Linked DNA regions of Homo sapiens: all the other regions are linked to region 1. Evidence: fine-mapped expression QTL. A gene starts in region 1. Each other region holds a variant in brackets. All regions are shown on one strand. Distances are from middle to middle.

Region 1 (8,108 bases):
TTGTTTGGTTGTTATTGTTGAATTCAAAAGATCATTCTGACGCACAGCCAGGGTTGAGAGCCACTGACTAAAATATTCTTCCTGACTCATGAACATATATATATACATATATTTCATGATATGGTAGAGTAATCGTGAATAGGACTTGGTAATGAGTAAACTAAAATCCTCTGGACAGCAATGCTTTGTGGTTCATCTGTCTTTTTTACAGTTATTCCATTGCCTTTCTCTAGAAACAGCTGTTTCTTTTCACTGCAATATTGTTGCCTCTAAGCCTTTACTTTAACCACTGCTTGTATACAGCTAACCATGGGAACCTCCAATTCAACTACAGTGATGTCACAGCTTTTCCTCTTCCGGGTTTTGAATATTTACTTTAAGAGATGAATTCTAAGATCTCTTTCTGCAAAGATCCTATTACACTTTAAAGAGTATTACCTCTCTCTTTATGAACTTATTCTGTGACTAACCATACAGCTATTTTATTTTCCCAGAAAATATACCACTATGAATGAGGAGGGAGTCCACAGTATACTATTGGTACAATTAAAAAGTATCAAATAAAGAAAACTAAGTAAAAATAATTTTCCAAATGGAATTTCTTATGGCAAGAATCCAAAAATAATTCTATGGCTACAAACATAAGAACACTAGGAATTATTTTTCCTATACATTTCTCACTGAGATCAGATAACCACTGGCAGTTTCCTAGGGTCTTCCTGATGACCTCCAGTTAGATATTTATAACTACAACATGACATGTTTATACTATCTAAAGCAAGAATAGCTCATTAAATTCCTCATCCATCAGTTGTTCCTTAAAAGTAAAGCCACTAACTTTGATGAGGTTATTTTACCATAACAATAATGAGTACAGAGGGAAAAACCTTCTCTCCCACTCTACTCTCTGGACCCAAACTGTTGACAACTGTTACACCATTCTAAAAGAGTGTTTTAATGTCAAACTAAAGCCTCGATCCACTGTACAAGTAGAACAACATATAGGTCAATGGGCCCAATTTTCATAACAGTACTATTTGCACCTTAAAACCTAAAGCAACCCTTACAGCAATTCTTAACACATTACTTATATTTCCCATTATGTGTTTGCCTACCCTATCATTTCTTAAGACTTATTTTATTATCTATTATTCAACATATGTGATTTAAGCACAAATTATTCACCAAATATTATACCACACAATGGGTATAAAATGAAGAAAACTAATGTCAAAAATGATGGTGACTAATAGTCTTCCTGCATCTTATTAACTGGCATCATCTCAGAGAAATGCAAATCAAAGCCACAATGAGATACCATCTCACACCAGTTAGAATGGCAATCATTAAAAAGTCAGGAAACAACAGGTGCTGGAGAGGATGTGGAGAAATAGGAACACTTTTACACTGTTGGTGGGACTGTAAACTAGTTCAACCATTGTGGAAGTCAGTGTGGCAATTCCTCAGGGATCTAGAACTAGAAATACCATTTGACCCAGCCATCCCATTACTGGGTATATACCCAAAGGACTATAAATCATGCTGCTATAAAGACACATGCACACGTATGTTTATTGCGGCACTATTCACAATAGCAGACTTGGAACCAACCCAAATGTCCAACAATGATAGACTGGATTAAGAAAATGTGGCACATATACACCATGGAATACTATGCAGCCATAAAAAATGATGAGTTCATGTCCTTTGTAGGGACATGGATGAAACTGGAAATCATCATTCTCAGTAAACTATCGCAAGAACAAAAAACCAAACACCGCAGATTCTCACTCATAGGTGGGAATTGAACAATGAGAACACATGGACACAGGAAGGGGAACATCACACTCTGGGGACTGTTGTGGGGTGGGGGGAAGGGGGGAGGGATAGCTTTAGGAGATATACCTAATGCTAAATGACAAGTTAATGGGTGCAGCACACCAGCATGGCACATGTATACATATGTAACTAACCTGCACATTGTGCACACGTACCCTAAAACTTAAAGTATAATAAAAAAAAAAGCTGGCATTTAAAAAAAAACAAAAAACTGGCATCATCATCTAACCAACTTTTCAAGGTAGAAAACCATTAGTCAGCCCTTAAACCTCATTTAATATTACTCCTTACATCCAATCCATCAGAATATCCTGGTTCTACTTCAAAAATGAATCACTTTCCTCCATGCCACTATCTCTCTAAAGCAAAGGCTGGCAAACATTTTCTCTAGAGTCAGTTATTAGCTATTTGTTACTTTAGATTTTGTAGGCCATACAGTCTCTTGCCCTTGTAATGCAAAAGCAACCAGACAATACATAAACAAATGGGCACAGTTGTGTTCCAATAAAACTTTATTTACAAAAAAAAGTGTCAGACCAGTTTTAGCCCACAGGCAGTAGTTTGCAGACCTCTGTCTTAAAGCATGCCACCATCAACTTTCCCTAAATTATGCCTAACCAGTCTCTCTGCTCCCAGTCCACCTATTTAGCGTAGGGTACCCATTATTCTCTATCTCATCATTTTATTGCCTCTGTAGCACTTATCATAACATTTAATTATCATGTCCACTGGTTTTTTGTCTTTTCCTTCCAGTAGAGAGTAATTTCCTTTCCAAGAAAAGTTTGTACTGTTATAAATTTTATCCCCAGGACCAACACAGAGTCACACAGCAGACATTCAGTGAACATGCGAATTTATTACACATTCTTTTTTTTTTCTTTTTTTTTTTAGACAAGAGTGTCTCTGTCGCCCAGTCTGGAGTGTCATGGCACAATTATAGCTCACTGTAAACTCCAACTCCTGAGCTCAGCCATCCTCCCGCCTCAGCCTCCTGAGTAGCTGGGACTACAGGTGTGCACCACCATGCCTGGCTAAATTTTTTATTTTTAGTAGAGACAGGGTCTCGCTTATGTTGTCCAGGCTGGCCTCAAACTATCCTCCCGCCTAAGCTTCCCCAAAGTACTGGGATTACAGGTGTGAGCCATGCGCCTGGCCTATTACAAATTATCAATCTCACAAATCCTTGATATCTTGCGAGAAAACTAAAAAGTACACCAACATATACATAACTGTAAAAACTGCATTGGAAGAAGAGTGCTATGAGAAGGGAGTATTGAGAAATGTAATTTAAAAGGGAAAGGGGTCTAAGAACTGTATCTCAGATAAGTGTACAGCATGTGCAAAAAAAAAAAAGCCTTAAGGGAATCACACAACTTATTGGAGTATTTTGGGTTTGAGTTCGGATAATTTCTAGGACGAAATAAATTCAGTTGAGTTAGAAATGGAATCTCTCAGTATCCAAACTACAGAACAACTGCTTAAATTGTTAAGATTTCCTGTTGGATTTAACAGGGAAATGGGTTAAGTGTCCTAAAATTTAATGAGTCGAAATCATTTGTTTTGGTTTAAACTAATTACCAACTCAACTCATTCTGGTGATAGGGTCTCTCTCTCCCTCTTTCACTCCAAAGGCCTCCTCAAGCATTCCTCAAGGGTGTTCCCACCTCGGGGCCCTGGAGCTTTCTGCTCCTTCCACCAATTTCCCTAAATACCAAGAGTGACTAGATTTATCAAAAGGAATGAGCCTCCCAGTCACAATATCCACTCGGCAGCTTCATCTATTTTTAGCTGCCAGTCTCCTATAGGTATTTATATGTTTGGTCCCTGAATTACAGCGTCATCAATTCCTAGACCTCAGAATTCAGGCTTGTAACTTGCCCTCTCTGAACTTTAGCTCTGAATTCATCTATTTAATGAGATCGATATCTTCCTCAAAGGAAAGCAAGTAAACAATCAGCATATTGCTGGGCTCAGGAAAATCACTCAATACCTGGTAGCTTTTGTTATACAGCACAATTATTAATGAAAACTACTCATTTGGGTGCCAGAAGGCATCCCAGGTGACTTGTGGTAGATAATCACACCTTCTTTAAACCTCCTATTTAAGGCAGAATATAATGCCCTGACTCAATAGGCAATAAAACTCAACTGAACTAAATATCTCAACCTTCATTTATCTACTTACAACAAACTTCTGCCATTCACTAACAACTGGGGCATACAAGAATAAAGAATGAAAATAACATTTACTGAGTGCTTAATATGGGCCACACGCGGGGTCACATAAATACTTTGCGTATTCCCCACGTCATTTAATAATCGCAAGAACCTAGTAATGAACCCAGTTTTACAGATGAGGAGCCTGCCCAAAGTTGCTCAGCAAGTAACTGTCAGAGGCAGCACTAGATCCCAGGGGCTGACTCCCGAGTCCAGGTTCTCAACACTGAATCGGAGATTTGGTTCCAGGCCTGGAGGGGTTCACAATCTGCAGCTGTCACTGAAGAGGATCTACAGGGCAAAACCCCAACCCGAAGGGCACCGGCAAGAACTGGTCCAACGCGACGCAGTACACAGGCCTCTGCGTAAGGGGCGAGCGCGGAGCTGGTACCTTTGCCTGAGGTTTCCGCGCGGGGCTGTGGCGCCGACGGATCCATCCGGCCAGGGGGAGGGGCCGAGCCCGGCTGCATGTAACACCCGGAAGGCGGCGGAGGACAGCAAGGTGGCTGGCCGGCAGGCCAATGGCGGCCAACGCCACTTCCGGCCGCCCTCCGAGCATCGCTCTTCGGCAACCCGAAGCCACAGGATGGAGGAGGGGGATCCCAGCAAAGGTAGCGACTAAGGGGACCCAAGCAGAACGGGAGGGCGACGTCCGGAGCGGCGGCAGAGCCAGGGGACGCTGTGTGAGGCTGGCAAAGCGGTGTTCACCTAGTTCTCTCGGGCTCCGCCGCCGCCGGAGGAGGACAGGAGGCCGGCAAGGCGACCCCCAAATCTTCCTAGGCTCTGACTTCCGTCTCCTAACCCCCGCAAATTCCAACCCGGTCTTGGAAAATCCCGCGAGAACGGGCTCCCGAATTGTCATTGGGATCTCGCGAGAACGAAATCTTCCTTTCTGTGGGCGGAGCAATCTTCCCGATGTCTCTTCCCTCTGAGGCCAGTAGCAGGAAGGGCCTCGGGAGTTGCGAGTGTCGCGAGGTTTGAGGTCGCTCGGTGGGCCGGGCGCTGTGCGAAGCTAGAAATAACTGGGGGCATGGAGAATGCGGTGGCTGTAAAGGGCCGCTGAGGCGGTGGAGGCCTGGCAGAGAGCGTCCCCGCGGTCGCGGCTTCTGGCTTCTCTGTGGAGCTTGGTTCTTCCGTGGTGGTGCAGCACCCCAGGAACTTCAGGAACCAGTCCTTCCTTGGAGAGCTCCCCGGGACAGCCACGGGGGCCAAGTGAAACTAGCGCGTTTTCTTGGATCCTACACTTTATAGTGAGTCATAAATACTTTAAATACAAAGCCAACAACATTTGCTGCAAATAAACGTAAAAATACTGTTAAAGTGTAAAGTGTTTTCCTCCGTACCATCTGACGTTTCTGGCGGTTCGTTGAACGCGAGAGAACGCTGAGCCGTCTGCACTGAGCCCGGGAGCATCTTCAGGGCAGCGCCGCCCACGCGCGAGGTGAATGAAGGACACGGCCTCTTGACACTCCCAGGCAGCACAGATAGACGGATCCGTAAGTGGCTCCCGCGCATGTTAAAATTTGTATACTGTAAGGTATTTCATGGATTGAGTGAAATACCTGACAGGGCCTGTATCCGTTCCCTATTGCCACAATAACCAAAAACCACAAACTTTGTAGCTTGAAACAGCACAAATTTATCATCTGACAGACAATGCATTTATTATCTCACGGTTCTGTAGATCAGAAGTGCTACCTGGGTGTCACCCGGGCTGCACTCCTTTCTGGTGACTCCACAGGACAATCCTTAGCTTGCCTTTGCCAGCTTCTGTCCACATTCCTTGGCTTTGGTCCCTTCCTCCATCTTCAAAGCCAGTGATATGCCATCTCTCTGAACCTTCCATCCTCAAGTCTACCGCTGATTGCAGCTGGAAAAGATTCTGAGGGCTCACCTGAGTAATCCAGGATCATCTTCCCATTTCCAGGTCTCTGCCCTTGATCACATCAGCAGAATCCTTTTGCCATGTAAGCTAATATATTCACGAATTCCGGAAATTAGGAGATAAACATCTTTGGGGGATCATTATTCTGCCTACAGTAGTGTCTTAAGAAAACAATATGGCTGTTTGCAAATAGATCTCAATTCTATGGCAGATACTAAAAACTAGTAGTATGTGTTCATAAAATGCTTCATTTAAAATATGACTTGTTTGCTTACCAGCAGGCAATAACTTTAAGCCTAAGTGAAACATCTAACTCAGCCATCTATGTGTGAGTTGTTGGCCAGATCACTTCTCCGTGTTTTATTGTACTCACCTATCACCATTACAGTGAAGCTAATAATAGTAAACTACCTAAAAATGGTAATTGTAAAAAATTAGATAATTAAGTAAAACTCCTAAAACAGTAGCTGGTCATAGTAAGGAATATATGTGTTGTTATTACTATTATTATCAATGGAATGCATCCACTTGAAAGTTGCATTCTACATAGCCATTATGTCAGTTTAATATTTTGGCTAATAGGCCGGGCGCGGTTGGCTCATGCCTGTAATCCCAGCACTCTGGGAGGCCAAGGTGAGCGGATCATGAGGTCAAGAGATCAAGACCATCCTGGCCAATATGGTGAAACCCCGTCTCTAATAAAAATACAAAAATTAGCTGGGCGTAGTGGCACATGCCTGTAGTCCCAGCTACTCAGGAGGCTGAGGCAGGAGAATCGCTTGAACCCGGGAGGTCTATAGAGGTTGCAGTGAGCCGAGTTTGCGCCACCGCACTCTAATCTGGCGACACAGCGAAAAACACTACTAATTATAATTGTAATTCTTGATTCTGACATGCACCCTGATATTGGAAATCTTAAAATCTAGAAAAATCTGCTGCTTGTTATTGATGGATTATATCTCTTTTCACATTGTCTCTAAAATCAAAATGGCAAATTGAAATTTTAATCAAGCTTCTTTTTTTCCCCTACAACTACCAGGGAAGAAGTTTGATTTTTTTCCCCTCTCTGAAATGACTAGTTGTGTAATTTTGTCTTATTTTTCCAGAGGTCCATTGAGTTAAGATGTAGCTCTTGACAGAGCAGACCTCTTAATAGAAGTGATAAGCAAATTCAGAAATAAATTTTGATTTAAATGGGAGGTATCATCTGGTTGAAGGAATACCCTTGTGACTAACAAAAGAGGAGGATACCTCATTTTCTTTTTTTTTTTTTTTTTTTTGAGACGGAGTCTCGCTCTGTCGCCCAGGCTGGAGTGCAGTGGCGGGATCTCGGCTCACTGCAAGCTCCGCCTCCCGGGTTCACGCCATTCTCCTGCCTCAGCCTCCCAAGTAGCTGGGACTACAGGCGCCCGCCACTACGCCCGGCTAATTTTTTGTATTTTTAGTAGAGACGGGGTTTCACCGTTTTAGCCGGGATGGTCTCGATCTCCTGACCTCGTGATCCGCCCGCCTCGGCCTCCCAAAGTGCTGGGATTACAGGCGTGAGCCACCGCGCCCGGCCCTCATTTTCTGAGTGTTTATTATTTAACCTCACTGCTGTACTTACAGTGTATACTGAAGCAGAAATAATCATGACATGAAAATATGTCCTAGTGAACTAGTTGCCTCATAAAGTTAGACATTCTCAAATATTCCTTCCCCCAGTAGCTTTTGTCTTTGCATTGACATCCTTGTCTAGGTGCTGATATTGTGAACATCTAACGCTGTCAGACCAGTCACTTCAAAGTTAAACTGAATATCTTGTAAAATATTAAGGAATTCCTGTAGTTAATATGTGTGATGTTGGATAAATCACATGAATGAACTGAATCACATACAAAACTTTTGGCAAAGGAGGATCTAGCAAAAATTAAGCCAATTAAAACTACAAAAGAGAAAAAAATAACACAGATGGTGATAACACAGGCATTTCAAAACAGGCTCATGGAAGGATGATTAAACCCACCAATAATTTGCCAAAAAATAGTCTCTCTTTATCTTCACACTGCAAAAGTCAAATATATATCTGTATGTGGTTGACAGATCTCCAGAATTGTGAGTTAATCTAGCAAAAAGGCTCCAGAAAAAAATAGATATGAAACTCTAAGACAACACAAGAAATTAAGTC
Region 2 (8,108 bases), 240 kb after region 1:
GCACAAAAAGTTAATTTTTTTCTAAAAAAAGCTTAATAAAAGCAATGCATGGTTATTGTAGATAATTTGAATTTGACAAAAATCATAAATTTTAAAAATTAAAATTATCTTTTAATCTCACCACCCTGAAATTGCCTTGTTTACTATTTTTTCACATTTCCTTCCAGTCCTTTTTCTAAGTGCATGTATCTGTGCCTATTTATAACAAAAGTTGAATCCTATTATGTGTAAAGTGTGTGCTTGGCTTTTTAAAATTAAACCTGTATGTGCCATTAAATATTTTTGGAAAATATTTTAATAACTTCTCATGTGTTCCCCAGAGATATATTTCAAGCATTTTAATTCCACAAATACATCCCAGGCACCTATCACATGTCAGACATTCTGGCTGATGTTGAAAGGGTAAAAGAGGAATGGATGTTTTTCCTGCTCTCAAGGAGCTTATAATTTTGTAAGAAATGAAAGAGCAAGCAGGCACTTTTGTAGTCCATAATACAAGGTAGGCTCAAATAAGTACAATTTTTAAAAAATACAGTGGGTTTAGGTGTGAGTACAAAGTGCATTTTTCTCCCCCTTCTTTGAATTTTCTGTTGGCTATTTCCTCAATAGAATTTGCAAATAAGTTACTATCATTTGAGGAGTAACAGAGCTAGCAAGAACGTTCTTTGCCAAGAAAGGAGAATTTTCCTCCCAGTGAGCACTCTTTGGGAGGTATTTTGAAAAATGCAGCACGTCCTTTTAAAGAGAGAGGAAATGAGGAGATTGTCGTGTCTGTCTCACCTTAGATAATAAATGCTGGGTCGACATCAGAAATTGGAAACAAATTCTAGGAAAACCTCTCTGAAGTTTCCACAAGGTGATCCAATTAAGATATGACTGGCAGCCATGAAAAGCTTTGGTCCTGCCAAACCACAGAGAAATTTTAGATGTAGAAACACAAGAAATATCTTTCTGGATAACCAAATATTTTTTAAAAGAGCCATATAGTGTAGGCTTAAACTTCCAAGACATCATTGACTATTTTTCTTGCCCTCCAGCCAAAGATAACCTAAAACAAGGGAAAACACTGGCTATCCCACGAAAGCCAGACAAGTAAACAGAAATTTGCAATGAATCTTTCTTAGCCTCCGCAAAGGCCAAGTTGAAAATCCATCTTCAGCACATTGGAATGGAATCTCTTAGGTCAACTAACAAGACCCCGCCTTGCAGGGGTGCTGACACCGAACCACTCCGGAATCTCCTGCGACATGTGCCTCCATCTGCCATCATAAAGTACTGTGTCAACTAGGCTCCAGATGCTCTGGGCATCTTCTGAATGCTTCCAACTTCCCCTGACTGCAGAGAAGACCCAGTTCCCACTCCAACAACAGCTGGTGCCATATATGATGAAACTGTCATGGAGGCATCCTTGAGTCAGATTACCCCACATGACAAGGAATGGAGGCCAAGAGAAGTCGCCGTCAAATCCCCTCCTCTTAAGCAGGAACATCACCCTCACATGAGAACCCTTAAAAAGTCAGACTCCTGACTCCTTCCCATTCTTGAGTAGTCACACTGGGGCCAAGTGGAATATCCTGGGAACCTAGGAAAATCTCCTCAAAACAGGCTACACAAATTGATTGCTTAATAAAATCTCCTCGTTCTTCTTGAAAGACATTGTTTTATGGACATTTCAATTGTATTCTTAAACCTGTCCCATCAGGTAGAACATTTTGAGATCATGGAATGTTTGTTGAGTTTTTGCTTTGTTTTGTTTTGTTTTTTGAGATGGAGTCTCCCTCTGTCACCCAGGCTGGAGTGCAGTGGTGCGATCTCGGCTCACTGCAACCTCCGCCTCCCAGGTTCAAAGTGATTCTCCTGCCTCAGCCTCCCGAGTAGCTGGGACTGCAGGTACCTGCCACCACACCTGGCTAATTTTTTGTATTTTTAGTAGAGATGGGGTTTCACCATGATAGCCAGGATGGTGTTGAGTTTTGACTGAGCAGAATTAAATGTTTCTGGAATGAGACTGGGCATCACTGAGTCAAGAGAACCACAAAGCGCATCTCCAGTCACTGATGGTGTTGGTCTTTCTCATTTCAGGTGTTCGGGCAGGCATGTCATAGTGTCTTATGATAAATTGTGCATTTCCCTGGTGGCTGATGATGTTGAGTACATTTTCATATAACCATTGGCCATTTGTATATGTTCTTTTGTTTTGTCAGTTTTTTGCCCATTTTTAAAAAATTGGGCGTCTGTCTTTTTATTATTGTGTTACAGGAGTTCTTTACATATTATTGATACAAGTCCTTTGTCAGATGTATGTGTTGCAAATATTTTCTCCCAGTCTGCAGCTTGCCTATTGATTTTTCTTGATGGAGTTTTTCAGAATTTTGATGAAGTTTCATTTACATACACTGTTTTCTTTTATGACTTGTGCATTCTGTAACCTCCCCAATAAATTTTTGCCTACCTGAAGGTCATGAAGATACTCCTCTGGGTTTTCTCCTAGTAGCTTTATTGTTTTAGATATTATATGTAAATATTATACCCATCTCAAATTGATTTTTAGATATGGTACAAAGTAGGAATTGAGGTTATAGACACACACAAAGGGATATATATATACATATATATATATGAATATCCCATTGTTTCCATACAACTTAGTAAAGAGATTTTTCTATGTACATTAAATTGCTTTCACACTCATCAAAAATTATTTGGACATCTATTTGTGGGTGGTGCGTCTCTGGGCACTCTATTCTGTCCCACTGACTGACATGTACAGGCTTCCACCAGTGCCACCCAGACCTGATGCGTAGTCTTAAAGTCAAGTACTGTGAGTCCAGAAACTTTTTTCTTCTTTTCCAAGATATTTTAGGCTATTGTTGGTCCTTTGCTTATCCAGACAAAACTTAAAATTGTCTTGTCAATTTCTGAATAAAAGTCTTCAGGCTATATAGTAAAGGCACAGAAACAAGGCTTTGCTATGAAAAACATGAAAGAAACTTTGAGGTGAATATCCTGGTGGCAAGCATGTGGGGGAGGAGAACAAATGACAAAGTAAGGAACATGAGCCAGTGTGGAGGGTGCTCCATGGACTGACATGCCCTACCCCAAGAATCATAAGTTGAACCCCTTACCCCTAGTGTAATGGTATTTGGAGGTGGGCATTTGGAAGATAATTCAGTTTGTATGAGGTCATGTGGGTGGAGCCCTCATGATGGGATTAGTGCCCTTATACAAAATCATGCCAGAGAGCTTGCATCCTCTCCCATCTCCACTATATGAAGACACAGCAAGAAGGCAGCCACCTGCAAGCCAGGAAGAGAGCCCTCACCAGGAGCCAATCAGCCTGCCTCCAGAGCTGTGGGAAATAAATCACAGTAGTTTAAGCCACCCAATCTGCAATATTTTGTTATGACACCCCAAGCTGACTAACAGGCTTTAGGCATAGAGGGGAAATTATCATGTGCCTTAAAGCTGACAATTTAATTTGATTCAAGGGGCCATTAGAACTTACAAATGGCAGATTGATCACAAGCATTATCTCCATTCCCTTCCAAAACCCCACTCAAATAACAGCAAAGGAAAATAGTAAACCCATAAATGCTAAGAGAATGGCAGAAGAGATAATTCAATCAACTTTTTGAAGGTGAAAAGCACATGAGGCAATAGTAACTAATCTAAATTTAACAGAGAAAGCTAAAACCAAGAGGCTGCAGAGGATGCCAAGGAGTAGCAAGGATTTGTTCTGCTGAGCCCTGGAAAGGA[T/A]CAGGAACTTGAGGCAATGGCTCCCATAGACACATGGGACTAAGACAGGAGCAGGGAGGCCACTGGATCCCTTTCCCAGCAGCCACAGAAGGGCAGCATTGTCAAACAGGAATATAATATGAGCCCTGGATGTAATTTTAGATTTTCCAGCAGCCACATTGAGAAAGGTAAAATTAATTTTAATAATATACTTTACTTAACCTAATATATCATTATTTCAATGTGTAATCAATACTTTACAAATTGAGATAAGGTATAATCAGTACTTTAAAAACTGAGATATTTTACTGTTTTTTGTAATGTCTTCAAAATCAGGTATGTATTTTACACTCACTGCACATCTCAATTCTGACCAGCCACATTCCCAGTGCTCAGGGACCATCAGTGGTGAGAGGTTATGGTATTAGACAGCATCAGTCTAGTGTAACACAACTAAGGAGACCCTGAGCACAAAGACTCAGGCATGGGGAGAGTTAGGCATCTGGAATGAACTGAAAACAGAAGCTCTAAATAAAAACCTTCATTCTGAACAGTGATACTCACAGCTTCCTCTCACCCCCAAACCAGAACACAAACAATGAATCTCTTCTCTCCCCAGCCCCCAGTTCAGGAGATTTGGTCCTTTTCAGTACCTTGGAAGAAAGAGAAGCAATTTAGAGGGCAAAATTAAAACTTCAGAAGTCAGTAAACTCAAAGAATTAATAGAAGATATCACGTCCCTAAAGCAGTACCAGGATACCCTAAAAATGAGGAAGATATTTTGAAAATTAAAAATAGTACAGCTAAGTAAAAATGTCAACAGAGGGTTGGATTTAAAAAGACAACATAATCCGGCAGACAGGAGGAAAGATAAAAAAAATGAACTACAGAAGAGAAAAAGATAAGCAATTAGAGGATTAAGCCAGGAGATTCAACATGCAAAGGAGTTCAAGAAAAAGACAGTAGAAAAGACACTGACAGGAAATTAACAAAGAAAAATATGAGAAAAATTTCCTGGAAGTGATATCTGACTTTCAAAAGTATGTGCATATATTACTTCGATAACATTAAAATTTATTTAAAAACAAAAACTATTATAAAAAGAAAAAAAAAGAAACCATTAGACTTTGCTGTGGTATCTAAGGATGGGGGTAATGGGGTTATCGATCCTTCATGATGAACACAATTTCTGTTCCTAGCACCTGGTAAGTATTAACTGACCAGAGCAGCAAAGCCATCGGAGAGGTTGCCTCCCTGTTTCCCACCCCACCCCTTGTTCTATGGCACTGCTTTAATGCAACAACAACCAAAAATCCTCTGGGCTTCACATTGCAGAAAATCTCTTTTGTACTTTAAGGCATTTTTGTTCACATTCAGAATCTGTGGTCTAGACATTTCTTTGGCACTTGTCATCATCATCCCAGGGAAATGGAACTCAAATGAAAGGAAGGGTGGGGAGTGCCTTAGAATAATCCCCTGGAAGAAGAAACTGCAGAGCACATTCCCGCCCTCAATAGGCAGGCCTGGCTCCAGTGCTGACTGTACCAAGGGTGCAGGGTGGGAAGGGCAAGGAGGTGGTCTTGGAATCCCTGGGACCGGGGGAGTGGCAAGGGGGTGAGTCCATGGATGCCCTCAGTGGGTCCCTGTCTTCAAGGGCTCCCACATCAGAACATGCAGAGGACTCTAAAGGCAAGGTCCAGGAATCCACCTTTAACGGGAACCCCACCCCTCCATGTTACCCCCATTCATTCTCTTGCACACCTGCCAAAATTAGAGGACCACTGGGACACATAGGAGCACTGGAATTGGAATCACAATGGTACTTCTTCCAAATGCAGACATCTGTGATCCACCCCCAAATGTATTAAATGAAAATCTGCTAGGCACAGTGGTTCACCGGGTGTGATGGTGTGCACCTGTGATTCCAGCTACTCGGGAGGCTGAGGTGGGAGGACCGCTTGAACCTAGGAGGCCAAGGCTGCAGTGAGTTGAGATTGCACCACTGCACTCCAGCTTGGGTGACAGAGCAAGACCCTGTCTCAAAAAAAAAAAAAAAAAAGACAAATATATATATATGTATATATAAAGAGAACAGAGTGCTGAGAGTGATTCTCATGTGCTCCTCTACTTAAAAATCTCTGGATCGATGGCTCTCAAACGCATATATATTTTAGAATCTCCCAGGAAATATTATAAAAATGAAAATACCTAGGTTCCATGTCTTCTGAGTTGTGCAGTCATGAGTGAGGCCCAGGAATCTGCATTTTGACTGGCTCCCCATGATATTAGATGCAGGTAGTCCTGAGAGCTCACTGCTGAAAAACACAGCTGTATGCTCTGGAGCTTACATTTGCCTCAGACCACATCTCCAGAAGACCCCTTTGGTGTGCACCCATCTTCCTCAATGGGCTGAAAGAATCTTACATGGGAATCTGGGTTCAAATATCCAGATACTTCCCCAGCAAACACTCATCCGATTGCACCTACACTCACAGCTTAAAACAAGACAGGTTGAGAACTTTAGGCTCAGGACTTTTTACCCCATTTGCTTCTTGCTGACCTTGAGGATGTGCGGCTGGGAGAAGTACTTATGTTGTCCATTTATTTAAACCATCTCTGCCGGAAAAAAAAATAGGCTCATCATATGCTTGGGACCTTTATGTTATGACGGTGGGTGGTGTGGCCATATGTGTGAGTATATGTATGTATTACACAAATGCCTCTATAGACAGTGCTCAGGAATTGGATCTGTGCCAAGGGCAGATATTAAGGAGACATTTGATTAAGATCAAGCCCTGCCCAGTCATTTGAAGTGTATGTTAACAAAGAGTCAGGAAAAGGGGTCTGAGTGCCAATTCTCCAAGAACATGTGGAGGGCAGCCCCAGCTTGTGTGTGTGCTGTCCGGGAGGCAAACAACACTCCCTACCCAACTGCTGGAAACCAGATGAGAGAGTGGCCGTGCCACACTACTGCTGCAGGCGAGGGAATGGGCTTCTTGAAGAAAACATTTTGGATAAGTTCTAGAGGCCAGATAACTGCTCTGGGGAAGTTCAAAGACCTGCAGAGAGAACACAGCTCTCCCTAAAGGCAAGCGTCTGGTCATCGCTTCCCCAGGGGCATTCTCATCGAGGCCAGCACAGCTCTTCATGGAGAATCAAGACTGACAGGAATTAGAAAAATGACCAGAATGAGGCTGTCCGCAGGGTTTCCAAACAAGACAATGCTGCCTGGGCCCAGTGCCTCTGCCTGCCCTCCTGCTTCTAAAGGAGGGTGCCCCACAGGCTCTCAAATCTGGGCCCTTAATTAATCCTCCTGTGTCTCCAGTGCTCTGCATGTGAACAGCAGCAACGATCTACAAAGAAGCACTTACACCTAGAACACATTTACTAGTCCGTTCTCACACTGCTTTAAGGGAATACCTGAGACTGGGTAATTTATAAGAAAAGAGGTTGAATTGGCTCATGGTTCTGCAGGCTGTACAGGAAGTATGGCAGCATCAGCTTCTGGGGAGGCCTCTGGGAGCTTTCAATCACTGCAGAAGCCAAAGGGGTGTGAGGTGTCTCACATGGTGGGAGCGGGAGGAAAGGGGGGAGGTGCCACATACTTTTAAATGACCAGGTCTCACGAGAACTCACTCACTATCACAAGACGAACAGGGAAATCCACCCCCATGATTCAATCAACTCCCACCAAGCCCCACCTCCAACACTGGGGATTACAATTTGACAGGAGATTTGGGCTGGACACAGATCCAAGCCAGATCAACACACAAGGACAATCATCATACTCCGAAACACCTTAGGCACTAACGGGGTTACAAATCCATCTTTCGCATGGGATGTTAATGATCTGGGGAGGGCTTCTATTTGGGAAAGGTGGGTCATACAATGAGAGACAAAGTACTGAAGCTGATGTTTCCTGGCATTATGGTGGGGCATGTACACGTTTTTTTTTCTTTTTCTTTTTTCTTTTTTTTTTTTTTTTTTTTTTTTTGAGATGGAGTCTAGTTGTGTTGCCAGGCTGGAGTGCAGTGGCGCAATCTCAGCTCACTGCAACCTTCACCTTCCACCTCCAGGTTCAAGCGGTTCTCCTGCCTCAGCCTACCAAGTAGCTGAGATTACAGGCACACACTGCCATACCCAGCTAATTTTTGTATTTTTAGTAGAGACAGGGTTTCACCATGTTGGCCAGAATGGTCTCGATCTCCTGACCTTGTTATCTGCCCACCTCGGCCTCCCAAAGTGCTGGGATTACAGGTGTGGGCCACCATGCCTGGCCGTGTACAAGTTTTTAAAATAGAAAAGAGTGCAGCAATATGACAAATTCAGTCAGTCAAACCAGAACTCTCCAGGGTTTATCAATGCAATCTGAT
Region 3 (8,108 bases), 64 kb after region 1:
CTTCCACGCCACCCTCTGCAGAGGGGAGCTGACAGCGCCGGAACACACGGGCCTCTGCCGGGGTCTGCTTTTGCTCGGATTCCCCACCTGTGCTCCAGGCAGAGCTTCCCGCCACCCACTTTGCAAGCCTGCTCGCTCCCCCACCTGTACAAACACAGGGCTTCCTGTCACCACGTGGCCTAGCAGCGCAAGGCCGCGGATGGGGAGCTTCGAGTTTTTAATTTACTAATGAGAACGATTGTAGACCTGGAAAACAGCTGTTATCCCAGGGGCCACGACACAGTGTAATTCAATTGCGTCTTTATGATTTCTGTCTTGTCCTTTGCAATTTCCCACAAACCTGAAACATGTTTGGCTACTCACTTTCCATCTCACCGCGATCACAAGACTTAGCACTCAGAGAGACTCTTACAGCATGGAATGGTTTTTACTCCCTAAGTACCAAGTGGGAAGTAATAGGATATGGACTTATTCATGCTGTCGTGGTGCAATGTAAGGACGCTGAGTCTGCAAGGATAGATAACTCATTTCCAAATAGGGTCCCTCCCACGTCCTCTGTCACCGCTATTATTAACCATTTTTTAAAAAAAGAGGCTGATGTGTCATAGTAGAAAGAACATGGACTTCGAAGTCAAGACAAAAAAATGAGTTCCAGTCCCACTTGTGCGTTTACCTGTTATGTGGCCTTGGACCTTGCCTGCTCTTAGTTTCCTGGTCTGTAAGATGGAGCCGGATACCGACTTCATAGGGCACGAGGAAGATGAACGGAGACAAGATGGGAAACAGCGTGGCTCGCACAGCCTGTAGGTCATGGGTAGCCTTAGCGCAGGCTCCCAGCTCCTCACCCTGCCTCCGCAACAATCCGAACACTCCCACTCTCTCTCCATTCTGATCCATTGTACACCACGGTCAGATGACTCATCCCAAAGCAGCGTCTTGTATATATCACATTTCCTTCTCTCCCCAACCAAACCACACCCCTAAACAACAACAGAAACCCTTCGAGGTTTCCCAATGCCTTCAAGATGTGCGAATCCTTTAAGTCGGCATTGATGCTCAACCGAAATTTAGAGTCCATTTACCGCCTCACAGGGGCCGTTATTACTCCTATACCTGAATCCGCTGCGCTACACAAACTCATTGCTCTCTGAGTGTGCCAGATTCATGCCAGGCCCGTCTTTTCCCCTGCTCCCCACGTTCATGCCGCTCCCCTTGCAGGGACTGCTTGCCCCTCCTTGGCATTGTATATTTTCTTTAAAATGCGGATAAAGTCCCATCTCCTCCTCTCCCATCCCATTGGCTATTTAATGTATCCCACCTTGCTTTGTTGTTAGTGACCTGTGTATGTAGCCAGCAGCGCCTGGCATAGGCTCTGTAGAAGACGTTCAGAAACGTGAGGTAATGACTGCAGGTATAAAAGCACAAATTTAGAAATGCCTTTGAAACCAACTGGAATTCAACTCATAACAATTTTCTCCCATGCAATTTTGAAATATCAATAGCCAGACTAAAATTATCAAGCTTTGAGTTTGTGTATTGCTCTGTGTGTGTGTGTGTGTGTGTGTGTGTGTGTGTGTGTGTGTTTAGGGAGCTGCATTTAGTGGTTTAGCTTCACTTTATTCAGCTCCAAGTGGGAAATAATTATCTTCACTTCTTTCTCCTGCTACTCGCAGCTGATAAGCTCTCATCAGACCACGCTGATTGTTCAAGCAACCAAAATCATACCGGAATTTAGGAAAGATAATTGAAGAGAAGATAAGGTTGACAATTGTTGACCAGTTTCCTCTCTTTAACTTTTCTCCCAGACTCCCTGCATAGTTTAATCTTCTGTATTTTGTGTGTCTTTTTGCTAAAGCAGCTTAGCCTGTAATTTCATCCAAAGCCTTCCAATGCCTTCCCAGAGCCACTTGAAGGCATTGGGAAACCTCAGAGAGTTTCTGTTGTTGTTTAGGGGTGTTGTTTAGCCTGTAATAAAATACACCAAAGAAAGTGGTCTTCTCAGAGCCCCCCAGCAGCTGGGGGGTGCTCTGGCTAGTTGGCAGTGAAGGACATTGAGGAAGGAGGCTCTGTTTAAGCTCTAAACTTGGCTGTTTAGATTCCAGGCATTCTTGATAAGTTATACCTAAACCAGTACTTGGACAAGGACCAAAGGATTATGCATCAGTGCCATACCCAAGATATTTGAGGATTCTGTCAAATTGAAGATTGACTAGTGTCCATGTGTAATGATGTAGTCAAGAGAATATTGAATTGAAGCAATTAAACAGTAATATCTTGAATTCATGTTTTTGAAAAGGCTGTTAACTAAGTGTCCATTTTTCTGCCCACCAGGAAGAGTTTGAAGTTTGAAATCCCAGAATGAGGAAATTCATCCAGCTTGGAGACTTCCAATCCCTTCATTGTGCAGAAGGTTGCTAATGCTCTCAGGAGAAGCCCTTCACCAAGAGAATACTTCCACATAGAGTCCTCTCCATTGAGACTAAGGAAACATGCTATGTCATGTAGCCACAGCAGCCTTTGCAGCTGTTGAAGGCAGCAAGACTTGCATGGCAATCAGAAGACACAGAACCAAGACTCATATCCAGTTATAAGATGGCAGATGGGACACACACTCATCAGGCTTAGTGAGCAGCCAATCCAGAGGGAACCATACTCAGCCCTAGGGGCTGGGCGCGGTGGCTCTCGCCTGTAATCCCAGCACTTTGGGAGGCCAAGGCGGATGGATCACCTGAGGTCACGAGTTCAAGACCAGCCTGACCAACATGGAGAAATCCCATCTCTACTAAAAATACAAAATTAGCTGGGCATGGTGGTGCATGCCTGTAATCCCAGTTACTCGGGAGGCTGAGGCAGGAGAATCACTCGAACCCGAGAGGCAGAGGTTGTGGTGAGCTGAGATTGTGCCATTGCACTCCAGTCTGGGCAACAAGAGTGAAACTCTGTCTCAAAAAAAAAAAAAAAAAAAAAAAGCCCTAGGAAGATTTCTTCAAACAGATGAAGCTAATGATATCCCCAGTGTGTTTGAATATATTGAGAGATCACACAATAGGGACACTGTTTAGGGTTGAATTAATAGCAAGCAAATGGGATGCTAAGGAAATATAAAGAATAAAAGTTCAAAGGGAAAACAAAATGTTATTCAAGAAAGTCAAAACATCCATCGTAACTTTTTTTTTTTTTGAGACAGAGTCTCGCTCTGTCACCCAGGTTGGAGTGCAGTGGCGTGATCTCAGCTCACTGCAAGCTCCGCCTCCCAGGCTCACGCCATTCTCCTGCCTCAGCCTCCCGAGTAGCTGGTACTACAGGTGGCTGCCACCACGCCCGGCTAATTTTTTGTAATTTTAGTACAGATGGGGTTTCACCGTGTTAGCCAGGATGGTCTCGATCTCCTGACCTTGTGATCTGCCTGCCTCAGGCTCCCAAAGTGCTGGGATTACAGGCGTGAGCCACCGCGCCTGGCTCGTACACTGTTTTATATACCACTTGCAGTATCATGATTGTATAAATACTAAATATCTATTGATCTATCCAAAACTACAACATAAGTATTTTTGGAATATGGAGGAGTGGGTGCTGAGTATGCATGGGAGAAGGGAGGCTGAGGTGAAGGTGGGAGAGAAGGAGACAGTGAAATATTCATCTTCCAAATTGGAAACTCAAATAGATAATGCCTAAACATGAAATATCAATAGAAATGTAATATTTAAACATATGGTGGTGCTTCTGGGAAAAAGAAAAGAGGATGGAGAAGACTGTTT[G/T]TTTGTATGTTTGTTTGTTTAAACAAGCAATATGGATGAAATTACAGGCTAAGCTGCTTTAGCAAAAAGACACCAAAATACAGAAGCTTAAATGAGGTAGGTATAAGTTTCTCTGTTTGATATGATCTCAAGAGAAGCAATCTGGGTTGGAAAGTCACCTTTATGATCCTCAAAACGTAGCTTCCACCTGTGGGACTAAGGCAGCCATTCTAGTTTTGTCTTCCCAGCCAGAGGGAAGGAGGACAGGGTCAGGAGAGCACATGTGCATAACTGATAGGAACATGCCCCAGAAGGGCCACACATCCATCGGTCAGGATGTGGGCATAAGGACCACAGCTGCATGGGAGGCTGGGAAGCATAGGGTCTAGCTGTTAGCCACGTGCTCAGCTAAGACACTGGAGCCCTGATATTAAAGAAGGTGAGGAATGATGCTAGTGCTCAACCAGCAGTCTCTGTCACATCAGCTTTGCAGAATCATTTGATTCTTTCAACTAGGTGCATATACAACTTCAATACAAATGAAAACTAAATATAAGACATGGTTCTTAAAAATCATCTTTTGTACAATTGAGGACACAATCAAAACCCAGACACCAGGGTCCTGAAGCAGAATGCAGGCATCCACAGAAGAGGCGGTGCTGATGGACTGGACCCCAGAGAGTCCACACCTGCTTGGTGCCATACCTTGGGTCCCTCCAGATCAGGATGCTCCCAGCAACTTTTCTAGGATGGTTATACTGCACATGCTGCAAAGATGAGTGGGCATCCCTGCAAGCCTATGGTTTTAGAGTAAATGGTTCCAAAAGAAGGTATGAAGCAGACCCATAGATGGGGATTAGTGCATAGGAGGTTTATTGGGGAGTACTCTTGGGATCAACATCTGTGAGCAACGAGAAAGAAGCAGGATTGAGCAGGGAAGAAGGTGGGTGTTCTGGAGCTGAGATCAAACTTCAGAAGTGTTGTGGCAAGGGGGCCCAGTATTGGTGAGTCTTTCAATGTGACTGCTCCAAGAACTCACAGCTTGGGGGTGTCATCTCAGGTGAAGTTGTTGTGTTCAGCCTGGGCAATTCTGGAGAGGCCTGACAAGTGAGGCCTGCCCCTGCAGAACTCCTGGCAGCTCAGGGAACACATTTTTCATTCCTGAGATGTTGCTTCACAGCATCTACTCTGTGTGGATCCAAGGAGCTGCCTCTGGGTCTCTGGGAAATCAGTCGTTTGAATTTGGATTCCAGCGTGTGGCTCTTACATTTCTTTTTAGGAGAAATCCAATAGTGGTGCTCTCATTATGATGACAGAGGGGCTGGGAGGTGCCAGGGGCCCAGCAGGGAAGTGGCAGGAGTACAGCAGCATACTGTGTAACCTGGGCTAGGTTTTTACTCAAGGTGGCTTAGGACAGCTTTTGAAGATTACAGGGAGAAGAACCTAAAATATAGGCAAACCAGATGATAACTACCCTGCTTTCATCTGTGCCTCAGGGTGATTAGTCAGCATTTGTTGGTTAACATGTCAAGAACCCTGTGATTTTGTCAAATATATATTTGGTCTTTGACTCCATTTTCTGACATACAACTCCTAAAATCCTTATAATCTCCAAAGTGATAGTGTCTTTTTGTATGCTTATGAGTTGACTAGTGGCTGACAGCCTCTATGTAGCTTCAGGACAGGGACTGGTCACAGGAAAGACCAAGGCAGCATTAGAGGGTCGGGACTCTTAGCCCCCTACTCCCACCTCCAGGAACCAGAGAGGGTGGAAAGGTTGTTGACCACCAATGGCCAATGATGTAATCAATCCTGCCTACAGAATGAAGCCTCCATAAAAACCCAAAAGGACAGGGTTTGGAGAGCTTCTGCATAGCTGAACACACGGAGCTTCCTAGAGGGTGGCACACCCGGAGAGGGCATGGAAGCTCCCTACCCCTTCCCCCGTATCTCCCTCTAAGCATCTCTTCATCTATATCCTTTGTAATACCCTTTATAATAAACCAGTAAACCTATGTTTCCCTGACTTCTGTGAGCCACTCTAGTAAATTAATCAAACCCAAAGAGTGGGTGGTGGGAGCCCCAATTTGAAGTCAGTTGGGCAGATGTTCCAGGGGCCCCAACTTGTGACTGGTGTCTGAAAGGGAGATCAGTTTAGGGTACTGAGCCCTTAACCTGTGGGATCTGAGGCCATCTACAGGTAGATAGCCTCTGAATTTTTTTTTTTTTTTTTTTGAGACAGAGTTTCACTCTGTCGTCCAAGCTGGAGTGCAGTGGCTTGATCTTGGCTCACTGCAACCTCTGCCTTCCAGGTTCAAGCGATTCTCCTGCCTCAGCCTCTCAAATAGCAGGGATTGCAGGTGCATGCCATCACGCCTGACTAAGTTTTGTATTTTTTAGTAGAGATAGAGTTTCTCCATGTTGGCTAGGCTAGTCTCACACTCCTGGCCCCAAGCAATCCTCCCGCAAAGTGTTGGGATTACAGGCATGAGCCACAGAATTGAATTGAATTAGACACTCAGCTTGTGTCTTCTGCTTGGTGTCTGGGGAAACCCCCACATTTTGTCACTGAAGTCTTCTGTGTTCACTATTTTTTTTTTTTTTTTTTTTACGTAAGAGCAGAGGAAAAACTGTGTGAGTTTAAGTAGTTGACTCACAAACCCTAATCTTAATTTAGGTTCCAGAATGGCCCAAGGCAAAGGTTTTAAATAGTCCTTCTCCATCTGCCCTAGAGGGTTTATTTGTTATCACAGGGGTTGTTAGAAGGAAATTTTCTTTGAAGAAATGAGTGATGCTAAGGCATGTAGTTGGCTGAAGAGACTTCCACTGGCACCTCCTCCCTTGATCTGGCAAACCCAGCAGCTGACCACCTTTGGAGTGACAGAATCTCTCTCTCTTTATGGATAGAATTCTGTCCTATGGTCCCCACCTAATGGAGAGCCACCTATGTCATCTCTGTCACCTACTCTGATGTTAAAATTTTGTTGTGACCACAACAAAGTAAATATTTCCTGCAAGATGCTTTCCAAAGTACCTAAAAAGACAAGAGAATGAGAGGAGGAGGTTGCATGGCTATTTTTGTACTTACCTCCCAATAAATGTTCGTGTGTATGAGGCAGAATTTGGTCTGAGACTTGCTTTCATTTAAAAACAAGTCCTGGTGAGGTAGTGGGAGGGAAAGGACCTAGACCTTCACCTCCTTCTAACTGCTAGAGGCTACCAATATTTTTTAAAAGAGCCTGATATTTGTGAATGGCTAAATAAGCCCAGAGATTAAGAAAGTAAATGATGCCTCATATTCTTGCTGGTTACATGTTCCAACAATCTGAACAGTAAAGATACCTGAAAAAAATGATTATCAACACATTGGTTTAGTGCAGTGATTGATCATAAAAGATAAATGATCCAGCTGTAGAAATTGGGAATATGATATATGATAATGATAGCAAGGCAAACCTAACCTGATTATTCTAGATATTCATTTGTCATTTACATGGTGTCTGCTACTGGACTTGGCTTTGGGCAGGCTCAGGTTCTAGAAGAGTCTTTCATGCCCCCAGTGATCTGTGGCATGGCTATGGACAATCCCTGGGTTTAACTCCTATGTGTGAAAAATCTAGAGGATTCTAGTGGCCGAACATACAGAAAAGTAAATCCAAAATCTAATCTTGCTTTGATTTATGTGGTTGGAAGCGGGGAGGTTTGGGAAATGCAGTCAGACAAAAGTCATCCCATCTAAATATTAAATGCAAGAGAATTAAAAGGAGACAGAGAATAGAAACCACTGTCAATATGTTGCGAATCTGACAACTCTGGGATTAGACATGATTTTCCCATGTTCCCTCACACAAACCCTCCATTCAGGCCAGGCCTTTGCTCTTTCTATCCCCAAGAGCTTGCCCACCAATTTACACCTTGGCTCATGAAACCTAGGTTGCCCTCCTCTATTCACAAACTCTCACCACCCTTCAGCTATCCCATCCTCATGTATAAAATGCCTCCCCAACTCCTGTTAGCCAGTGTTGATCTCTTCCTGTAAACTCTGTTAACTTTGCCACTTATATATTTCATACTTTTTCTTCTTGAGATTCTAAGTCCCACAAACATTTACTGGGGCAGGCGGACCTTGTAGTCTTGTGAGACTATGGACAGATGAGGACTGTCCATGGTTAGACATGATTAGTGAACAATCCTATACTGGGAAAACACATGCTTAAATGGGACAATACTGAAGTATTATTTGCTGCATTCTGGACTTCTTCCCTTAATCTGCATTTTTTTCTGGGCAAAAAGCCAGAATGGCCCAAGGCAAAGGTTTTAAATAGTTCCCAGGAAGCCACATTCAGACTGCAAAGGCATCCTACTGAAGGG
Region 4 (8,108 bases), 84 kb after region 1:
TTCTTAGATATGATTTCCCTTATTTTAAAAAAATCTATATGTTAAAAAACATCATTTTCTAGCAGTTTTCTGTTTCTAGAAGTAGAGACATCTTTTGAGCAAATTTTGCTTTGGTAAAATGACCAGAATGGGTGCCTTGAAAACATGTATAAAACAAGCGGCCGCTCATTAATCTTAGGGAAATCTAATCTTAATTATAGCTAATCGTAATTCAAGTCTTTCATTTACAGAGTTTGTTGTTTAGTTTATTAATTGTGGTGTAATTTTGAGTAGTACTATACTCTTGCAGATTTAGAGGGTATTTTTCTCCTAAATTCGAATTAAGGTTTGTGCTTCCTGGGAGATGTGTGTGTGTGTGTGTGTGTGTGCATATGCACGTGTGTCTGGTCCTCTGTACACATATGCTCCACTCTTGCCTTATGCGGGAGGAGATGTTGAACAGGAGCTGGGCAGGGCCTCTCACAGCACACCAGGGAGCATTATGCCAGTGCCTACACCTGGCGCTGGAGCACACCACCGATGCTCCAAACTGCTGGAAATGTGCCATTGTTTGCTGTGACTGCGTAAATGGGCCACAGACTAGCAAGAGACTGGATGAAGAGAAGCAAATCCCCTTCTGTCTCTGGGATTGAGAGCCTTGGCCTAGACCCAGGTCAGGGGGAACTGGTCAGGGGTGTGCCTTTTGATTGGAGGTATATTGACCTCTGTAATCTGCTCATCAGTTTTTATGTATCATGGCTTAGCCCCTCGACAACTTCTTTTTTTCTTTTATCTTTTTGTAAGGCAAGGTTTCTCTCTGTTGTCCAGGCTGGAGCGCAGTGGCATGATCACAGCTCACTGCAATCCCAAACTCCTGAGCTCAAGCAATCCTTCCACTTCAATCTCCCAAGTAGGTAGGACTCCAGCCTAGCAGTTACAGCTGCCTGATTTCTTTCTTTGTATTTTTTGTAGACACAGGGTCACACTATGTTGCCCAGACTGGTCTCAGACTCATGGCCTCAAGGGGTCCTCTTGCCTCGGCCTCCCCAAGTTTTGGGATTACAAGTGTGAGCCACTCTACCCAGCCTCAACTTCTTTTTAAGTGTTTTTCTATTTTCCCCACCATGAGGATTTTTTTTTTTTCATAATGCTGAAGCCCAGGAACTAATCTAGGAAAAAATAATTGTTCCCCTTTCCTTTCCTCACACCTTTTCTTTCTTTTCTATTTTTTTTTTTTTTTTTTTGAGACAGAGTCTTACTCTTGTTGCCCAGGCTGGAGTGTAGTGGCGCAATTTCAGCTCACTGCAACCTCTGCCTCCCGGGTTCAAGCAATTCCCCTGCCTCAGCCTCCTGAGTAGCTGGGATTATAGGCAAGCGCCGCCACACCCGGCTAATTTTTGTGTTCTTAGTAGAGACAGAATTTCATTGCATTAGCCAGGATGGTCTAGATCTCCTAACCTGGTGATCCGCCCACCTCAGCCTCCCAAAGTGCTGGGATTACAGGCGCGAGCCACTGCGACTGACCTCCTCACACCTTTTCAATCTTTCTCTCCCCATTCTCTTTATTCGAAAACATGAAAATCCACCATCAAGGATGGCAAAGACAGAATCACCCCACAGGACTGAGGTGGAGGCAAAGTAGAATGCCGCTTTGGTCTGGACTAGAGAGGAGACTGGGAATATCCCACATGAACGGACCTCATCTCTATGATGTTGACATAGTGTATAGTTCTTCTAACATAGCCTTTAATAAGCAGCACAAGTATCTTCTTGCCTTTTCTCCCTCTGGACGGTAAGCTCCTGGAGGCCAGGGACTTGTCCAGAGCTGTTTCTCCAATACCTGGCAGAGTTCATGGCGGACAAATGGGCATTCAAACATTGGCTGCATAAGTATTTCATGTTTCAAAAGAAAGTGACTTCTCTAGTTGTAATGGCCATCCAATCAGATGATGCAAGGGGAAATGATAACCGTTTTAAAGACCCAGAAATATAACACAGTTTTCAAAAAGACATTTCTTAAAGAAACAAAGTATGAGTAGGATATCATCTCAATTTTCTAGTGGTGTTAGAGTCACTTCCCTGAACAAGAAATGAGAGCAATGATGCAAATGAAATATGATTACAAACACATTGAATTCAAAATGTAGTGGTTCCTAGGATATCATGTGCAGATTCCCAATTTCAACATGTGTTGTTTAAATAAACGACAAAAGATCAGATCTTTTGTGACTAAACATTTATAGCACTGTATATTTTACATCTTATCTTCCCACAGCTCCCTCTTCATACTAGTTTGTTTTTATTGGACCACCAGCAGCAAATTCCTGCCATTTTATAACCTTATGACATTATTGTCATTGCTTTTAGCACAGGCACTGCTACATCTGTTAGTAAAAAAACTAAAAGTATTCTCTCATGAGTCACTAAAACACAATTGCCAAAACCAATTAAACTCGTGCCAAATATGACAAGTCACCAGAAGACTTTTAGCAATTTACAATGTTTTTGCTGGGAAAAGGAAATAAAGAAAAGAGAGAGGTACATTTGCATAACACTTTTTTTTTTCTTTTTTGCTAGTGAGCTTCAAAAGTTATAATCACTGAAATTTAGTAATGCTGACTACATCACTTTCTTCTGGTGTTTTTTACACTATCGTCCAGAGTTGATCATTAAAATTCTCGGTGGTTGGTCCTTCCCATCTCCACACTGCAAAATATTCCTATTCTTCCTGAGCTGGAGGTACTCACCAAAGATGAATGAACAAAGTATAGAAGAAGCAATGGCTGGATTTTAGGTTGAATAATCAAAGGATGGCCAGATATTTAACAAGCAATAAGGTAAACCAGCAGTGAAATTCTGCATATAAACCTGCCTGGGGATAGGAAATTTAGCTCAAATAAAGGCTAGGGATAGAGTTAAAAAGTGCCAACAGGAGAGGTATTTTCCTATCCTCACCTCAGCCAGTTCAAGATGAGTAACACATTGGCAGGACTTGGATACAGGACATCTCACTACATGTAAGCTTTAAGAGAAAAGAGTGTAAATTTATTACAGTGTGGAAAGTACAGGATTAACTAGACTACTCAATTGGCCTTATATCTTACCACCTAGATCTTTGCAGACTCATCCAGCAGAGAACTGAAGCAATTATTTCAACAAAACTGAGGCCCCAATATTTTTTTCCAAAATATTCTAAAAGTAGAGGAAAATATGTACTTAGTTAGACAATCAGTTGCACTATCCACATTTCAAATCCTGCATACATAAGTGTGGCTACTGGCTACCCTGCTGGACAGCACAGATACAGAACATTTCCATCACTGCAGAAATTTCTACTGAATAGTACTAATCAAAAGGATTTGGGGCCACAGTGGCTCATGCCTGTAAACCCAGCACTTTGGGAGGCTGAGGCAGGAGGATCACTTGAGCCCAGGAGAAGGAGGCTGCAGTGAACTATGATTGTGCAACTGCACTCTGGCCTGGGTGGCAGTGTGAGACCCAATCACATGAAAAAGAGGATTTGGGTCACTGAAAAGACAATAGAGAAGGAAAAATTCTTGGCTATTTCAACCTGTAAGAGGTGAGGAGAGTGAGAGAAGCCTGAAGATTTAGGAGTGTACAGAAAGGAAGGGGGAAATCAGGAGTATCAGAAGTCAAGGGAGAAAAAATTTCAAAAGACAGTAAAGAAACAAGAATGCCGCAGACATAAGTGAGACAGTCATTGAAGAGTACCATTGAACTTGGTCATAAGAAGATCATCCATGGCCTTCGAAAGACTCCAGATCACAGTGAGTTCAAAAATCAATGGGAGGGTATGAATTGGAACTGATGAGTATAGACAGTCTTCTAAGAAATTTAACTTTGTAAATAATTGCGAGAGTAACACTGCGCCTGGCACATCCTCTGTGTGTCATCTCCGAATCTGAAGTGTCCCTAACAAGGTGGCTTCTGCATCTCACGGCTTCATGTGGACCTAGAGATCTTATGAAAGTATCATGGAGCAAGATTGTCATAAATAGCCCCATAGCCCCACCTTGTTCCTTTGTGGTAACTTAAGCACTGGGAGG[G/A]TCAAACTCACTAAGTGTTCATATGTGGGTCTTATAAACTAAAAGATTTTTTTTTCATTTTTGGTAGCAACGAAACGAAAATAATTCAGCTAACTTTTTCACTTCAATGGAAAGGGGCACCTCACTGGTGGGAAGACAAAAGGTTATCATATTTTGCTTATTTTCCCCTTGTATTAAAGAAATAATTTTATTGGGTTTTTGTTGTTGTTGTTGTTGTTTTGAAACGGAGCCTCACTCTGTCGCCCAGGCTGGAGTGCAGTGGCATAATCTCGGCTCACTGCAACCTCCACCTCCCGGGTTCAAGCAATTCTCTTGCCTCAGCCTCTCAAGTAGCAGGGACTACAGGCACCCGCCACCACACCTGGCTAATTTTTGTATTTTTAGTAGAGACGGGGTTTCACCATATTGGCCAGGCTGATCTTGAACTCCTGACCTTGTGATCTGCCTGCCTCAGTCTCTCAAAGTGATGAGATTACAGGCATGAGCCACCGCGCCCGGTCCGATTTTAGTGTTTTATTTAATATTACAAAAGAAATACATTCTCATATAAAAAGACTTAGAAAACTCATATGAGCCAAAAGAAGAAGTTAAAATTACCCATTATATCTGTTTGTGTGCTTCAGCTCCAGGAGAAAGAAGCCCTGGCTTAAGCAATACAGACTACTACATAACAAGGAGTCCAGGGCCAGGTGGGTGGGTTTCAGGGCTGGTTTTTCCAGTGGTTCATTGATGTCATTAAAAATCCAGATTTATTTCATCTCTCTGATCTGCCGTCTTCAGTGTGGTTTTAACATCAACCCATTGGCTCTTACAATGGTGACAACAGTAGTTCAAGGTGTTACAACAAGACATAACCACATTGAAAGGAAAAAGAGAGACTTCCTCATCTCTTTTACAAGCAAGACATTTTCTTGTAAGAGCTTTCTAATGGACTCTTCCTCAAATTCTATTGGCCAGAACTGGGTGACACGCCCACTCCTTAACCAACACTTACAAATGGGTGGGATTCCTTTTTGAGCAATCAGAGAGAACCATGAAAGCAGTCAACTGCCCGAGACACACGAGTAAACAGGGCTTGGGGAGATATTGAGCCCAAAGTGACAAGTTACTCTAAAGGAAAGTAGGGGGGATGGACACAGGAGAGGCAATCAACATTATCCATAGCTAACAGTCTGCAGGATTAACCTTGGTTAACATCTGAATAAACATCCCTTCTTTTCCTGGGATTGTGTGTGTGCTTCTGGGCGTGTAATAGTACTGTATTTGCTCTCGTAATTTGGAGTTTTCCCCCTCAGCAATATATTGTGTCAGGCAGAATAAAGCTGTGAAGAAATTAAACAATACAAATAGAAATAAATACATTATGGAATTCTGCCATGCCATAAACAATCTTCTACAATATCATTTTAATGAGTACAGATATTCCATTTTTAAGAATATGGCATAATTTATTTACCAAAAAGGAATTAAAAATAAATATTTCCAAGTCTGAGATGAAAATTTTTATTTTAATTCTATGCACTGAAAAGATATTATAAAGTTAAGGTCTTACTTTCTTTGAAGGTAAGTAATAAGGAAGGAATCTTGTATTGACATTTATTTTAACAACTTATGTTTTAAATTAAAACATGACCATTGAAGCTGATGCTGTTGGACCATAGACCAAACTTTAAGAATCTAGGCAGGTGCGGCCAGTCATGACTATAGTCTCAGCACTTTGGGAGGCTGAGACAGGAGAATTGCTTGAGGCTAGGAGTTCAAGACCAGCCTGGAAATCATATAGTGATACCCCATCTCTACAAAAAAATTGAAAGCCGAGAATGCTGGCATGAACCTGTAGTTTCAGCTACTTGGAAGGCTGAGGTTGAAGGATTGCTTGAGGCAAGGAGTTCAAGACCATCCTGAGAAACATGGTGAGACCCCATCTCTACAAAAAAATAAAAAGTTAGCCAGGCATGGTGGTGTGCACCTGTAGTTCCAGCCACTTGGGAGGGTGAGATGGGAGGATTGCTTGAGCCCAAGAGTTCGAGGCTACGGTGAGCTATGATCATGCTACTGCATTCCAGCCTGGGTGACAGAGCAAATTCCATCTCAAAAGTAAATAGATAAATAAATAAATAGCAAGGATCTGCAGCAGTGCTGTTCAGTAGAACTTTCTGTGCTGATGGGAATGTTCTATAATCTGGACTGTCCAGTATGGTAGCACACGTGGCTACTGAACACTTGAAATGTGGCTACTGCATCTGAGGATCTGGCTGGGTTTTTTTTTCATTTTAATTAATTCAAATTTAAATAGTTACAACATGACTGACTAGTGACTACCATATTGCATAGCACAAAATCAGAGTGTTTCACAATCAAAAATATTCTCCCTCTTGCAAATCAAAATCACAATAAGATATCCACCTCACACCTGTTAGATTACCAAAAAGGCAAAAGATAAGAAGTGCTGGTGAGGATGTGGAGAAAAGGAAACCCTTATACATAAGGAATGCAAATGGGTACAGCCATTATGGCAAAAGGTATGGAATTTTCCCACAAAATTGAAAATTAGATCACATTTTAATCCAGCAATCCTACTTCTTTTATTTATCCAAAGGAAATGAGATCAGTATTTCAAAGAGGTACCTCCACTCCCATCTTCATGGCAGCATTATTCACCATAGCCAAGATATGAAATCGACTTTTGTGTCCAACAATTTGGATGAATGTATAAAGAAAATGTGATACATACACAACAGAATATTATTCAGCCTTTAAAAAGAAGGAAATCCTGGCTGGGCCGGGTGGCTCACGCCTGTAATCCCAGCACTTTGGGAGGCCGAGGTGGGCGAATCATTTAAGGTCAGGGGTTCGAGGCCAGTCTGGCCAGCATGGTGAAACCCTATCTCTACTAAAAATTCAAAAAAAAAAAAATTTGCTGGGCATGGTGGTGGGCGCCTGTAATCCCAGCTACTGGGAGGCTGAGGCAGGAGAATCGCTTGAACCCAGGAGGCGGAGGTTGCAGTGAGCAGAGATCGTGCCACTGCACTCCAGCCTGGGCAACTGAGCGAGACTGTGACAATATGGATGAATCAGAGGACACGGAGCTAAGTGAAATAAGCCAGATATAGAAAGACAAATTCTGCATGATCTCACTTACTTGTGGAATCCAGAAAAGTGGAGCTCATGGAAACAGAATAGAATGGTGGTTGCCAGGGGCTGGAGGAGGGAGAAATGGGAGATGCTCGTCAAAGGATACAAAACAAAGTTTCAGTGATGCAAGGTCAATAACTTCTGAAGGTCTAATGTACAGCAATGTGAATATAATAACAATACGGTATTGTATACTTGAAATTTGCCAAGAGGGTAGATCTTGTGTTCTCACCACAAAAAAAAGAAAAAAATGGTAACAATGTGAGGTGATAGATATATTAATTAGCTTGATTGTGATTTCCCACAATGTATGTGTATATCAAAACATCAAGTTGTGCAAGTTAAATATAAAAAATAAAGTAAAATAAAATCAGGCCAAATAAAAGATATTATTGTTAATTTAAAAATGTAGATTCTTCCTCGTTCTGAAAGGTATAGGTTTTCAAGTACTTCCAAAAGAGTAGAGGAAAAAGGAGAGAAGGGGCCAGAGAGAAATGAAGGTCTATTTGCCTGCACTGCATATGATAATATGCAGTATATCTCTAAGCAGAGATGCCGGCTGAGCTCTGCACGGACAGTGACAGGACTCAACCTCACCACCTGTGCCAAGTGGATCAAAGATGCTTCTTCCCACGAGCAGGGAGACTGTGCCAGCAGCCAGTGAAAAAAATGTTCTTTCTCATCAAATGAGGATGCTATAAAGTGCTGACCTGAATTGGGCTTTCCCCTTTGTTCTGTAAAGGGATGGAAGCCATTGAAAATGTATTTCCAGCTGAACTGTGGCTCATTACGCATTGACCTTGCATGGGGACCTTTTGTTCAACAGCAGAGGCAAAGTGGGCATGCCAGCCAGAGCGTAACTGTCCACCTATCTCTCTATGAAAAGTCTTTTTTTTCAGTCCTTTTTGGCTCTAGCTAACTCATGGC

The links. PIP is the estimated chance that this variant, and not a neighbour inherited with it, causes the effect.
Region 2: its variant is fine-mapped to the expression of ERCC6L2 in CD4 T cells (BLUEPRINT, PIP 0.95).
Region 3: its variant is fine-mapped to the expression of ERCC6L2 in blood mononuclear cells (TOPMed, PIP above 0.99).
Region 4: its variant is fine-mapped to the expression of ERCC6L2 in whole blood (INTERVAL, PIP 0.96).

Annotation. Positions count from the first base shown.
Region 1 is chr9:95,872,424-95,880,531 of GRCh38, reverse strand. It overlaps ERCC6L2 (ERCC excision repair 6 like 2), which reads right to left and starts at 4,841. Exons shown (of 19, transcript NM_020207.7): 1 at 4,448-4,841. The coding sequence starts at 4,493. ERCC6L2-AS1 (ERCC6L2 antisense RNA 1) reads left to right here and starts at 4,555. Exons shown (of 3, transcript NR_023390.1): 1 at 4,555-4,667. RefSeq lists enhancers at 4,631-4,690, 4,751-4,980, 4,112-4,986, 5,121-5,220, 5,261-5,310 and 1 more.
Region 2 is chr9:95,633,508-95,641,615 of GRCh38, reverse strand. No RefSeq gene overlaps it. Among named protein-coding and RNA genes, the nearest start is that of PTCH1, 130 kb to the right of the region's middle. The variant T/A (reference allele first, on the strand shown) is at 3,757.
Region 3 is chr9:95,808,146-95,816,253 of GRCh38, reverse strand. ERCC6L2-AS1 (ERCC6L2 antisense RNA 1) reads left to right here. Exons shown (of 3, transcript NR_023390.1): 3 at 2,332-8,108. It overlaps LOC107987103 (a long non-coding RNA gene), which reads right to left and starts at 915. Exons shown (of 2, transcript XR_001746851.2): 1 at 674-915. The variant G/T (reference allele first, on the strand shown) is at 3,759.
Region 4 is chr9:95,788,614-95,796,721 of GRCh38, reverse strand. No RefSeq gene overlaps it. Among named protein-coding and RNA genes, the nearest start is that of ERCC6L2, 83 kb to the left of the region's middle. The variant G/A (reference allele first, on the strand shown) is at 4,047.